Linked DNA regions of Homo sapiens. The protein of the gene in region 4 purifies or fractionates together with the protein of the main gene of each other region. This does not show direct contact. Each region holds a gene or a part of one and is shown on either strand. Other genes may lie near its edges.

The links. Proteins that work in one complex are often made in the same cells at the same time.
Region 1: the proteins of CCDC51 (region 4) and SERPINB2 purify together in Homo sapiens (affinity purification with mass spectrometry; 3 studies listed by BioGRID and IntAct, with this or other methods). This does not show direct contact.
Region 2: the proteins of CCDC51 (region 4) and DUSP14 purify together in Homo sapiens (affinity purification with mass spectrometry; 3 studies listed by BioGRID and IntAct, with this or other methods). This does not show direct contact.
Region 3: the proteins of CCDC51 (region 4) and PKP3 purify together in Homo sapiens (affinity purification with mass spectrometry; 3 studies listed by BioGRID and IntAct, with this or other methods). This does not show direct contact.

Annotation. Positions count from the first base shown.
Region 1 is NC_000018.10:63,897,672-63,901,114, reverse strand, and holds part of SERPINB2 (plasminogen activator inhibitor 2), read right to left. Parts: intron 3,389-3,443; coding exon 3,271-3,388; intron 1-3,270. UniProt on the Homo sapiens protein: Inhibits urokinase-type plasminogen activator. The monocyte derived PAI-2 is distinct from the endothelial cell-derived PAI-1.
Region 2 is NC_000017.11:37,506,858-37,510,458, forward strand, and holds part of DUSP14 (dual specificity protein phosphatase 14), read left to right. Parts: intron 1-3,601. UniProt on the Homo sapiens protein: Involved in the inactivation of MAP kinases. Dephosphorylates ERK, JNK and p38 MAP-kinases. Plays a negative role in TCR signaling by dephosphorylating MAP3K7 adapter TAB1 leading to its inactivation.
Region 3 is NC_000011.10:400,676-404,276, reverse strand, and holds part of PKP3 (plakophilin-3), read right to left. Parts: coding exon 3,572-3,601; intron 1,200-3,571; coding exon 1,014-1,199; intron 660-1,013; coding exon 506-659; intron 335-505; coding exon 142-334; intron 42-141; coding exon 1-41. UniProt on the Homo sapiens protein: A component of desmosome cell-cell junctions which are required for positive regulation of cellular adhesion. Required for the localization of DSG2, DSP and PKP2 to mature desmosome junctions.
Region 4 is NC_000003.12:48,434,337-48,437,160, forward strand, and holds part of CCDC51 (mitochondrial potassium channel), read right to left. Parts: intron 801-2,824; 5' UTR 793-800; coding exon 481-792; intron 1-480.

The sequences.
Region 1 (3,443 bases), on a different chromosome or scaffold from region 4:
GTAAGCCCGAGAAGATTGACAGAAACAATGACAAATGAGTGTGGTCATTTAAAAAAATGAAATTGGTTTAAGAAGCAGTTTGTTTATAGTTAGTACTCGCTCTGCAGTATTCCAAGCATCAAAATATATTATTTTGATACTCTATTAGGTGGGTTTTATTAGTGTCATTTTATGCAAAAGGACACCACCAGGTTAGCAGTCTTCCCAACGTTACAATGCTGGTAAGCTTGTAAAAATTCTGCCTCCACAGTCAAAACTACTGACAAATACAAGACTCTTAACAAATTAATAGGTCAATGTGGTTTTGAAGTAGGAGGTGGGACCTGACTCTGGAGGCAGGTTTTAGACACCAGGCCAAATTGAGGGCTAGCTAAAATGGGGACCAGGGACAGGATGGAAGCAGTGTACCATGTCAGTTTACCATTGTGATGGCAACACCTTGGAGTTACCACCTCTTTCTGTGGCAATGACCTGATGACCCAAAAGTTATTCCCCGTTCCCTAGAAATTTCTGCGTAAACTGCCCCTTAATCTACATGTAATTAAAAGTAGGTATAAATATGACCCCCAAACTGCCCTGAGCTGTGCCTCTCAGCACAGTGCCTGGGGTAGCCCTTCTCTGCAGGAGGAATCATGGAGCTGTAATACTGCCACTTCAATAAAGCTGTTTTCTTCTACCCTACCTCCAGCTCACCCTTGAATACTTTCCTGGGTGAAGCCAAGAACCCTTGAAGGCTAAGCCCCACTTTGGAGCTTGCCTGCCTTGCATCAGTTTCATCTTCAATGTATTCATTTAATATATACATTCAATATATTTCCCAAGCTATTAAAATTTTTGGTTAGTATTGGGGTATAGTAATGTTGTGATGTATATGATAAAACTAGTATTTGATCATAGCATGATGAAACAGACAATTCTCTCCAATTCTTACAAAAGCTGGTAAAACAATCTGCCAAAATAGCTGCTTGGCATTTTGGCAAAATAACTGATTGACTTACAGCCATTTAGCACAATGTCTAAAGAGAAAAACAATTCATGCCATTCTTTAAAGAAGGCAAAACTTCCATGTGTCTCTTTAATTTTGCTCTCCATTTTTACTTGAACTTTTGATTTAAATCATCTTTCTCTGCTTCCTTTGTGTCAGTGGTCTGTCAATATTTTAGAACAGTATTTCACAAATCCACAATGAAAATGAAGAACTAAAAGGAAATCAATTATTTTCAGATAAACAAATAAATATATATTTTTTGAAATCCCATAGCACTTAGTTTATGTGCATTTTCCATTGTGGTAATTAATAAAGCAAGACACCAAACTATTTCTTGAAACAATGTCTTAAACATAAGAGTTAAATGAAAATCCTTAAAAAAATAAGTTATAAAATTTTTAAACATCCGATTGAGGAATTCTGGAGTTAGACTAAGGATCAGAAGAAGAAGCAACCCTGGCTTTACCGCTACCAGTGGGATCTTAGGGGAGCCGGCTAATCCCCTGGGAACAGGATGCTCCAACCACAAATTGGTAAGATGGATAGGAGCTCTCTTAGGACATTTTCAATCCTAACAGATCATAAATGAATGAAATACTTACACAATTCTGAATTCATAATCATCTCTGTTTCTTAGAAATACATTTATATGTTATTATTCAGCAATTGTTTACTTAAGGCCTACAACTCTACCTGGAAATTCAGAAGAATGAAGGATTTTCACTGTCAGCAAAAAACTGTGCAAATTTTTGTGGGGGCATAGGATAAGTGTGACATACTGGACCTACCCAAAAATAATTAGAGCCTGAGAGGAAAAGCAAAACAAACTAACAAAAATCAGTTCCATAATTGTTTAAGGCCATATATGGCTAACACTAATGTGACTTGTGAAGCTGAAAAAGCAGATGAGGAGATGAGAAGAAGAAAAGATCAGGAAGTAATTGGGAGTCACTTCCAGGAAAGAGTAAGACTTTGGCTGCAATTTAAACTGCAACTTAAATCCTGTAGTTGAGGCATCCTCAGAAACAAAGTCTAGAGGCAGCAATGAGTGTTTAAGGAGCTCCAAGGGCCAGTGGTAGCCAAGCACAGTCAACTGGATTACTGAGAACTCAGAAGTCAAGGTAAAGAATGAGACCTTCTCCTGAGGACAGTAGGAGGTCACTGACAGTTTTTAGTGTGGGAATAGCATAATAAGTGTACTGCATCACCTCTTTAATTTCACCTCCTTCCCTTGGCCCTCCACACTGCAGTCAGACCAGACTCTATTCTTCTCCTTAGGGTTACCTCTGGACCTTTGCATATTCTGTGCACTCTGTCTGGAAATCTCCCCCCAGGCATGCACCCTCCACCTGGCCAGCTCCAGCCTGTCTTCCCAATTACAATTTAATCATTTTTAAATCCAGTCAGATGCCTTTCCTGTGTACTCCCACATAGCACCTGTACTTCTCAATGAAAGCACTGACTACTACTCTATAGCAATTGCCAACATGACTGAATCCCTCCTCTATAGGCTCTATGGTGGCAGGATTTACCATTTTTATCTTTATCTCCACATATAGTTTCTGGAATATGGTGTGTGGTGGATAAATATTTGTTGACTAAGTGAATGAACTTAATAGAACTTAATGAATGAATGAATTCAATGAATAAATGACTTAATAAACTAAATTACAATGAATAAATGATTCAATTAAATAATTTATTCATTGTAAAATATACAGAGGGAGGCAGGAGCCTGTGAAACAATTAAAAGCATGAGTTAAAATGGTAGACGTGACTTAGATAATCAAGGAGGGATGAAGCAGAGACCAAAAAAACTTGACAATGGATTGGCTTTGAATGGTGAAAGAGAAGAAAGAGTGAAAATAATTTTATGATTCTTCCCTCCTCCACTGCCTGTATTCTTTATAGCTCACACCATTTACTAAGCTCAGGGTCAAGCCTTGTTTTCTTTTTGTCCACAGTGGGCATAGACTCACAATTATTTCAATGCTGATATTTCCTATTTTGAAAGCTTCTGCCTCCTTTCATATTCTATCCTCAAGCAATATCCAAAATCAAATATTTAAGTACTAAACATATGTCTTCTATTAGTAGGCCTCAATTATTTCTTCTCAGTTAAAACACCACTGAGCTAATCAGGAATAAATTCACATCCACCAAAGTAACTGCAGTTGGACAAATTGTAAAGGGGTGAGGGCTAACTAAGTTCATGGATGGAAAAAGATAGATCAGAGTTTTCTAACTGGAAAGAAGTAAATAAAATATTTTCTTGGATTTACCTTTGGTTTGAGTCTTGACCCAGGAATTAATCTTTTTTCTAGCTTCTTCTGCACATTCTAGGAAGTCTACTGCCTGGGGTTCTGAGGAGTAATATTTCTGACAGAGTCGAATATATTCCTTTAAAGCAAGAAAATGACAAAGGCTACATAAAATACATACCAAACAAGCCATG
Region 2 (3,601 bases), on a different chromosome or scaffold from region 4:
AAACTGGAGCAGCTCGGCCCATCTGGGCTTAGCCTTTCTGTAAGTAGCACTGAAACACCTTCTTAGGCAGATCCACACCCCCCCGCGTGTGTGGCAGACGCTGGCTGGTGGTGTGGAGCGCCGCGAGGCAGGTGATGAGAACACAGCCACGATTTAGTCACCGCAGAGAAGCAGTGTGTGGACTTGAGCTAGAAATCCGGACACCTTCCATCTTTTCCTAGTTTCACTTCTCAAGTTGAAATCTCTCACCCTTTCTGAACCATGTATTTTCCAATCTGTCAAGGGGGTCAGGAGTGTTTGTCAGAGAAGCATCTATAGCATCTGTGCCCTCTACGTGCCCTCTGGCGGAAGTTGTTTTCCTGAAACTTTGGACCAGCTTTGGCATTTTAAGCAGGTTTGTTGGCAAAGAGATGGACTGGCAGCAGCAGGGAGGGAGCAATGTGTCTGTCTCACTTGGATTCTGCCCCGAGGGCTCACAATCTGTTTTCCCTGCAGCACCAAGTACCCTAGCGCCACTCAGCAAATGCGAGTTAACGGAATCAGCCCGGCTTCTACAGGGAACCTGGGCTCCTTTGCCTCAGGAAGGCAAGTGGCTTCCCAGACAGCGTAATTTGGGAGGATGCATCGCTCTGCCACCCAGGCTGGAGTGCAATGGCGCGATCTCAGCTCACTGCAGCCTCTTCCTCCCGGGTTCAAGCGATTCTCTTGGCTCAGCCTCCCTACTAGCTGGGATTATAGGCATGCACCACTGCACCTGGCTAATTTTTGTATTTTTAGTAGAGACGGGGTTTCACCATGTTGCCCAGGCTGGTCTCAGGTGATCTGCCCGCCTCGGCCTCCCAAAGTGCTGGGATTATAGGCGTAAGCCACCGTGTCTATGGCCAAGCCTCTCTGAATTAGACAACAACTAGATAACCTACTTGGAAATTTGATTAGCATCTTCCAGATTTTCCACAATGAGGAGCGTCATCCCCAGCAGCTTGAAGGCCTAATTTTGTGTTTATTACCACAGTGACTTTGCTTTTTAAACCAGTAGGATTCTGCCAGGGAAGACTTGGAAGTGGCAGGAGACCCTGCTCTGCTGTAGGAAAGGATGTTCTCAGAGTTTCTGCCCTGTTCATAGTTTACATCCAATGCACACACACGCAGTTTCCTTATGTGACTGCGTCCTTGTTCCTCCTCATGCTGTGATTTCACCTGTGGACTGCTCTGTGTACTCCCATAGCATTAACCAGTCATGGGATGTGGGCTCCCAAAGCGAGGCCTAGCCTCGAGTGAGGAGGCAGCTCCCTTCAGAGAAGGGCAGTGTCCAGGAGGGACTTGTGGTCTGTTAGCACCAGTACACCTGGTGCCTCAGTCTTCCAGGGGGAATGCAGACAGAGCCACAGCACTCACCTCTGCAGCAGTTCTCAGACGTGCCCCCGACCCGCAGCCTCACCTCAGAAAGGCAACTCTTCCAGCCCCACTCTGGAGGGACGGAATCAGAAGCTGGGGAAAGGTCCAGCAGTCTGTGCGCACAGCCCTCTGGGGGATTCTGAGGCATGCTCAGGTTTGAGAGCCCCTGCATTATAATGATAGAAATAGTTGTAAATGGAGCCAGGCACAGTGGCTCATGCCTGTAATCCCAGCACCTTGGGAGGCCAAGGTGGGTGGATCACTTGAGGTCAGGAGTTTGAGACCAGCCTGGCCAATGTGGCAAAACTCCGTCTCTACTTAAAGTACAAAAAATAGCAACGTGTGGTGGTGCACGCCTGTAATCCCAGCTACTCAGGAGGCTGAGGCAGGAGAATCTCTTGAACCTGGGAGGTGGAGGTTGCAGTGAGCTGAGATTGCGCCACTGCACTCCAGCCTGGGTGACAGAGCCAGACTCCATCTCAATATATATATATATATATGTATGTATAAATAAATATATATGTATATTTATAAACTTTTTTTTTCAAAAACCATTTTAAAATGTTAAACATACGTGTCATAGGACCCAGCCCTTCACTCCTGGGTATTGAACTGAGAGAGGAAGGCATATGTACGCACAAAGACCTGTACGTGGATGCTCATAGCAGCTGTACTCACAATACCTTTAAACTAGAGACAACCCAGGTTCATCAGTAGGTGAATGGATAAACAGAGTGTGGTGTATCTACACAGCAGAGTACTTAAGAAGTGAGCTGTTGATAACCCAGCGTCATGGGTGAATGTCTAAGTTATGCAGAGTGAAAGAAGCCAGACCAAAAAAAAAAAAAACCCATATATATATATATATATATATATACACACACACACACACACACACACACACACACACACACACTCTATATATATATGTACTATGTATATGTGTACTATATATGTATATATACACTATATATACACACTATATACACACTATATATATATATATATATATATATATATATATATATATATATATATATATATAGTGTGTGTGTGTGTGTGTGTGTGTGTGTTTAGTTTTTGAGACAGAGTCTTGCTCTGTTGCCCAGGCTGGAGTGCAGTGGTGCAATTTCGGCTCCACTGCAACCTCCACCTCCTCCTGGGTTCTAGTGATTCTCCTGCCTCAGCCACCCAAGTAGCTGGGATTACAGGTGTGTGCCATCATGCCCGGATAATTTTGGTATTTTTAGTAGAGACCTGGGTTTCTCCACATTGGCAAGGCTGGTCTCGAACTCCTGGCCTCAAGTGATCCACCCGCCTCGGCCTCCCAAAGTGTTGGGATTACAGGCGTGATCCACCACGCTTGGCCTATATATATTTATATGCTATAAATATATAAAAGTCCATTGATAGAAAAGTCTAGAGTGCAAACCATAGTGATAAGAAAGATCAGTGGTTGCCTGGGAATGGGGTAAAGAGCAAGAAAGGGTTGGATTATTAAAAAAAATGAGGAAATTTTGAGGGGGATGATGGATGTGTTTATTATTATGATGTACTGGTGTCTCCATTGTGTACATATGTCAGAACTCATCAGGTAATGTACCTGATCAAGTTGTATAGCAGTTTATATGTCAAGAACACCTCAACAGAGCTGTAAAAAAAACACGACAGGTCTGACAGTTACCTGGGAAAGGTGGGGGAACAGGTGGTAGAAGAACACATTTTTTATGATGTTCATGGTACTTACATAACATAAATGAATAAAATAGGGCCAACATGGAAAAGAAAACAAAATGAAGGAAAATGTCAAATTGCCATCCTGAACACCAGCACCGCCTGTAATTAGCGTTCCTGGCTGCAGCCACATCTGCGGTCCTGCTCCTCATGAAGCCGTCCTCCGTGCCATGTCCCGGCCATGCCTGTCCTTAGCTTCCTGGTGCACACTGTCCTCCACCTTGTGTTCAGGCACAGGGCTGCTTGGCTCACCCTTGCTGCACCTGGCCTGTCCGTCCTCCCACCGCGGTGCCGCCCAGGCCTTCCCACTGCAGGGCTGGCTAACGGTGCATGGAAGAGACTCGAGTCCGTGTTGTGTCCTCATAGCCCACCGAGGAGGCAGCAGTGCCGGACATTTCGCGGATAGGTTGTGGTCTCTGAGTCTCCTCCTCTCAAGAGGATGAGATTTGTCTGTGTTATTGTCAAAACTCTT
Region 3 (3,601 bases), on a different chromosome or scaffold from region 4:
GGAGGCTGGATGCTGCCCGGGAGGACTTCTCACTGTCGGGGCTGAGGGTGGAGGGCAGTCAGGAGGGGACACACAGCCAGAAAGCAGGGTGGACTGGGAGGACCCCTGACCAGGCTGCTGCACGGCTGGGTCGGCCCCTACCTGTCCCGCTTCTTCTTGATGAAGATGAGCTTTCGGAGTCCGTCAAAATACAGCAGGTCTCGGGCAGCGATGGGGCTGGCCACCACCAGGTTGTTGAGCACAGCTATGATGTTGACCAGCACCTCGGCTGGGGGCGACTTCTCACCCACGCTGCCCGGCAGCTTCTCGATCAGGTGGCTCACCACCTTCGTGGCTGTGGGAGGCCGGGGGTCAGTCTGCACCCCTACTCCTGGCCACCTGGGCACCTGGGGTCCCCTGCCTCCCCCAGGGAGCTGGACTGGCCCCAGTGGTCTGAAGCCCACACTTAAAGACAAAATTGACATGTGGGTCCAGCAGGGCAGGGACGAGGGGCTGCCCGACTCACACATCTCGTCCTTGTTCCTAGCGTTCCGAGACAGGTTTCGGATGAGGCCAGTCAGTGAGCGCAGCTGGTGGTGGTCGGCGGTCCTGACACGGTCTAGCAGGGGGTTCAGAATACGCTCCTGCTCCAGGGCCAGGCGGCTCAGCACCCCCGCCCACTGTGGGGAGGGAGGGTGTGAGCCGTGACCCGGAGGCCTCAGACCCTCACCTGAGGGGGTCCTGCCACAATGGGGTCGCTGCATCCTCTCGCCACCCTCAGGGGGGCCTCTGCTTCTGCCTTTGCCCCCCAGCCGGGGGGAATCAGCCGCAGCCCGGATCAGGTGCCTCCCTTCAAACCCAGGGCAGGACTTCCATCCTCCCAAGGCCCAAGGCCTGCGCCACCGGGACGCTGACCTCCGAGGCTCCGCGGACCCTGGGCGTCCCCTTCCTCCTCCCCTCCCTCTCCCTCCTCTGTCCCCCCCTCAACCGCATGAACCCCTGGGACCCCCTCGGGTCTGGGTTGGGTGCCCCACCCTGCGGTCGCCTGCCGTGATGTTCTGCAGCGCCCCGGCGGCCGCCTCCGTCGTGTGCCGGTTGAGCTCGCAGCGCTGCAGCAGCCGGTTGTACAGCCCCACGATCTGGGGGCTCCACAGCCACTCGAGGCCCTTGGGGTCCTTGGACACCTCCGCGAAGGTGAGCGCATCGGCGGCGAGGGGCAGCTGCGCAGGGCGGGGAGGAGTCGGCGGGGTCGGGGTGAGCGGGTCGGGGTGAGCGGGTCGGGGTGAGCGGGTCGGGTGTGAGTGGGGCGGGGGTGAGCGGGGTCCGGGGTGAGCGGGGCGGGGGTGAGCGGGGCCGGGGGTCGGGGGTGAGCGGGGTCCGGGGTGAGCGGGGCGGGGGTGAGCGGGGTCCGGGGTGAGCGGGGTCGGGGTGAGCGGGTCCCGGGGTGAGCGGGGCGGGGGTGAGCGGGGCGGGGGTGAGCGGGGCCGGGGGTGAGCGGGGCCGGGGGTCGGGGGTGAGCGGGGTCGGGGTGAGCGGGGCCGGGGGTGAGCGGGGCCCGGGGTGAGCGGGGCAGGGGTGAGCGGGGCGGGGGTGAGCGGGGTCGGGGTGAGCGGGTCGGGGGTGAGCGGGGCCGGGGGTCGGGGGTGAGCGGGGTCGGGGTGAGCGGGTCGGGGGTGAGCGGGGCCGGGGGTCGGGGGTGAGCGGGGTCGGGGTGAGCGGGGCCGGGGGTGAGCGGGGCCGGGGGTCGGGGGTGAGCGGGGTCGGGGTGAGCGGGGCCGGGGTCAGTGGAGCCGGGGGTGAGCGGGGCCGGGGGTCGGGGGTGAGCGGGGTCCGGGGTGAGCGGGGCCGGGGTCAGTGGAGCCGGGGGTGAGCGGGGCCGGGGGTCGGGGGTGAGCGGGGTCCGGGGTGAGCGGGGCCGGGGTCAGTGGAGCCGGGGGTGAGCGGGGCCGGGGGTCGGGGGTGAGCGGGGCCGGGGGTCGGGGGTGAGCGGGGTCCGGGGTGAGCGGGGCCGGGGTCAGTGGAGCCGGGGGTGAGCGGGGCCGGGGGTCGGGGGTGAGCGGGGTCCGGGGTGAGCGGGGCCGGGGTCAGTGGAGCCGGGGGTGAGCGGGGCCGGGGGTCTGGGGTGAGCGGGGTCGGGGTGAGCGGGGCCGGGGTCAGTGGAGCCGGGGGTGAGCGGGGCCGGGGGTCGGGGGTGAGCGGGGTCCGGGGTGAGCGGGGCCGGGGTCAGTGGAGCCGGGGGTGAGCGGGGCCGGGGGTCGGGGGTGAGCGGGGTCCGGGGTGAGCGGGGCCGGGGTCAGTGGAGCCGGGGGTGAGCGGGGCCGGGGGTCGGGGGTGAGCGGGGCCGGGGGTCGGGGGTGAGCGGGGTCCGGGGTGAGCGGGGCCGGGGTCAGTGGAGCCGGGGGTGAGCGGGGCCGGGGGTCGGGGGTGAGCGGGGTCCGGGGTGAGCGGGGCCGGGGTCAGTGGAGCCGGGGGTGAGCGGGGCCGGGGGTCGGGGGTGAGCGGGGCCGGGGGTCGGGGGTGAGCGGGGCGGGGGTGAGCGGGGCGGGGGTGAGCGGGGTCGGGGGTGAGCGGGGTCGGGGGTGAGCGGGGCCGGGGGTGAGCGGGGCCGGGGGTGAGCGGGGCGGGGGTGAGCGGGGCGGGTGTGAGCGGGGCCGGGTGTGAGCGGGGCCGGGTGTGAGCGGGGCCGGGTGTGAGCGGGGCGGGTGTGAGCGGGGCCGGGTGTGAGCGGGGCCGGGGGTGAGCGGGCCGGGGGTGAGCGGGGCGGGTGTGAGCGGGGCGGGTGTGAACGGGGCCGGGGGTGAGCGGGGCCGGGGGTGAGCGGGGCGGGTGTGAGCGGGGCGGGTGTGAGCGGGGCGGGTGTGAGCGGGCCGGGTGTGAGCGGGGCCGGGTGTGAGCGGGGCGGGTGTGAGCGGGGCCGGGGGTGAGCGGGGCGGGTGTGAGCGGGGCCGGGTGTGAGCGGGGCCGGGTGTGAGCGGGCCGGGGGTGAGCGGGGCGGGTGTGAGCGGGCCGGGGGTGAGCGGGGCGGGTGTGAGCGGGGCGGGTGTGAACGGGGCCGGGTGTGAGCGGGGCCGGGGGTGAGCGGGGCGGGTGTGAGCGGGCCGGGTGTGAGCGGGGCCGGGTGTGAGCGGGGCCGGGTGTGAGCGGGGCAGGTGTGAGCGGGGCCGGGGGTGAGCGGGGCGGGTGTGAGCGGGGCCGGGTGTGAGCGGGGCCGGGTGTGAGCGGGCCGGGGGTGAGCGGGGCGGGGGTGAGCGGGGCCGGGTGTGAGCGGGGCGGGTGTGAGCGGGGTCCGGGGTGAGCGGGGTCCGGGGTGAGCGGGGCGGGGGTGAGCGGGGCGGGTGTGAGCGGGGCCGGGGGTGAGCGGGGCGGGGGTGAGCGGGGTCCGGGGTGAGCGGGGCGGGGGTGAGCGGGGCGGGGGTGAGCGGGGCGGGTGTGAGCGGGGTCGGGGGTGAGCGGGGCGGGGGTGAGCGGGGTCCGGGGTGAGCGGGGCGGGGTGAGCGGGGCGGGGGTGAGCGGGGCGGGGGTGAGCGGGGCCGGGGTCAGCGGGGCCGGGGTCGCAGCACCCACCCCACGCCCCGCTCAGGCTGGTGCCCACCTCGCGCAGCCGCCGGCTCTGCGGCGTGAA
Region 4 (2,824 bases):
CCCACCACGCTACACTACTACATGCCTAAGCAGGAGTGGGAACAGAGATGACAGAATGCATTTCTGCCACCACAAAGGACTTGACAACCACCACCAGCTCTTTCCACCTCACACTGTGACATTTCCTAGTGCCCTCTATCTTCACAAAAGATGTTGTAATTACACACAGTAACAGTACCGCAGCAAGCCCCACGTAACTCTCACCATCAATCCCCAAATGGTCCACAAAGGAAGTATTTGCTGGCCTCACAGAGTGGATGTTAGTGGCCAGGGACTTACTGGTACACAGTAACTGTTTTCGGGGAAAGTAGGTGGCACAGTTACATGGAGACCTTCACCCCAGAAGCATCAAGCCCAGGTTTCCACGTGAGAAATGAGGCTAAACACAAGTCTGGATGTGGCTACCCAGCACCACGTGACTGGTTTGGCACATTTCCCAAGTCAGAGGGCGGGGCCAGCCACCCCAGCTCCCCTCCTCACCTCTGTCACCTTTCCCTGGGCCTCTCGAACCTCGTTGAGTCCAACAAACTCTTCATATCTGTCCCACCAAGTCTTGGCTGTGGAGGTCGCTCGTTGCTGAATGCTGTGCCCCAGGGCTCTTCCCAGTGCTGGGAGGCGGTGGTGCAGCCCCAGGGCCACCTCCTCAGGTCTTTTCTCTCCGGGCTGGCTTGGGCCTGGGCTGCAGAGAGTCCTGGTCATGAAGAGGTCCCTTCCAAGGAGGCCCCTCCGAACCAGTACGTGGGGCACACCCACGATGTGCTGCATGGCAAACCCAGGGCTGCGCCCCATCATCCTGAGATCTGTGAGGGGGACGCCAGACAGGTCAGCTCACAGCTGAGAAAGGCTGGACATAAGTCAGTTTTGAGGCCTAGGGACAGTTCTGAACAGACTAATCCCCACTCAAATCATCTAAACTGAGCACCACCCTGTTGGGCCCAGAGACTGTGGCCCCTGTGGCAAGAGGATGGTCAGGCTCTCCTCTGGGTGCTCTTGGACAATGGAACACAGTTGGGGACGAGCCTCTAGGATGCCATACCTTCCAGTGCCCGCCACCATGCCACACAAAGCGGACCCTTCCCTGCTACCCACTTCCCTACATCCTCCAGGTCTCTCTGCTGTGACTTGAATGAGAATCCTGGTGCCCAGGTTTCTGATGTCAAAGACAGTTTTTAAACCAGACTTGTACACATGCTGACAAAGCCCCACAAAGACGCATAAATACTCCCTGCAATGTTGTGGAACTCAGGGGAATTCAGGAAGACTAAGATCCAGGATCATTTCTGTAAAACAGCCTCAAAACCAACTCCCCAGACTCTCCAAGGACTGCCTCAGCACAAGGGAAGCAGAGTTTCAATTCTGTGCAAGGACCTAAGGACACAGGCCATTTGTGACCCAAGACAGAAAACTCTCAGCTCTCCTCTAAGATAATTCCAGGGGCAAAAAAAAACAAAACAAAACTGTTTTTGCCACAGAGGACTTTTCTTAGGTTCACGCCATACAACTCCGCCCCCAGACTTTCCAGGCTACCAACTCTCAGTCTCACACTTCACGACTTCCATAAGCTTTCTCTTTCCTCTCCAACCTGCCATTGCTCAACAGGTTAGGTTTCTCTCATCTTTCCCTTTTCCATCTTGCTTTGATGTTTGGGCCTGCTTCTCATTACCTGGACAGCAGGGAGTCTCCTGTTATCCAGAATCAGGCCTCACCTGAGCCCAAGAGTGCCAGTGACTCTGAGGACCCCAAAGAGGTGGCCAGGTGACCCATTTTCCCAGAAAAAGCTGAGCCAACAGCACCCTCCTCTGGCCAAACCACACCTCAAAGTCCCTAAGCACTGATCCTGGCTGTGAGAGCGACACCTGGTGGCCAACAGACCACGCCACAGAGAGAAAAGCAGAGGGAGCTGCAGACAGGAAGGAACTGAAGGAGCTCCAGATACAGAATAGAAAGGGGCTTCCTGATGGAAGGTGATATGAGACAGAGGCTCCCCACAGCACCCTAGCCTCCTCTCCATCATGCTGTGCTAAGAACTGTCTTTGGAGAAGCTCAGCGGCTTTGAAAACACAGCTGGTTGGGTAGAAACATGTCTTCTGGGCAAAGTGGGCCTGAGCTGAGAGCCGCAGAAGGGAACTTCACTGTGACAGTGATCCCAAGCTGGTGCCACACCCAAACCCCTGGGCCCCCTTCATAAGGCTGGGTTCCATGCCCATGAGGGTGCATACCATCCAGGCCCCAGCAGCCCAGTCAGACTCCCAGGCCTCAAGGCCAGCACCCATGACACACAGGCTGAGATCCTATAACACCCCTGCAGGTGTATCCTTCATCAGACAAAGCATGCAGTGTCCGCCATGGCTGGCACCACTTTCAACACCCTCTCTTCCCAACATCACTGCCCCTCTTGGCTTCCTCCAACCTTCTCAGCCTCCTTTCCCAGCACCTCCTCTACTAGCTGCCCATTTTTAGACCCCAGCAAAGTCACCCATTCCTGGCAGAGATGACAGCTACTGTCTCCTATGCAATCTCGGCTTTCTCCCCTGCCGTCCCCCACCCCCATGTTCTGCACATGGCAGCCCAAGGCCCTGTAACACAAAAATCAGATTACATCCCTCTGATCAAAATCCCCCAACAGCTCCCATTTCACCTGGCGGTGGCCAAGAAATCCTGAGACCTCTCAGCCCTCATCCTCTTCCTTCTACTGCCATACTCTGCTCCAGCCACCGTGCTGGTCTGTGCCCTGCCACCTTGTCCAGCTGGATGACTCTTCCTCCACGAGTCTACTCGGCTCACCCCGACATCTTCATCTTTGCCCAAATATCACCTCTCAGTA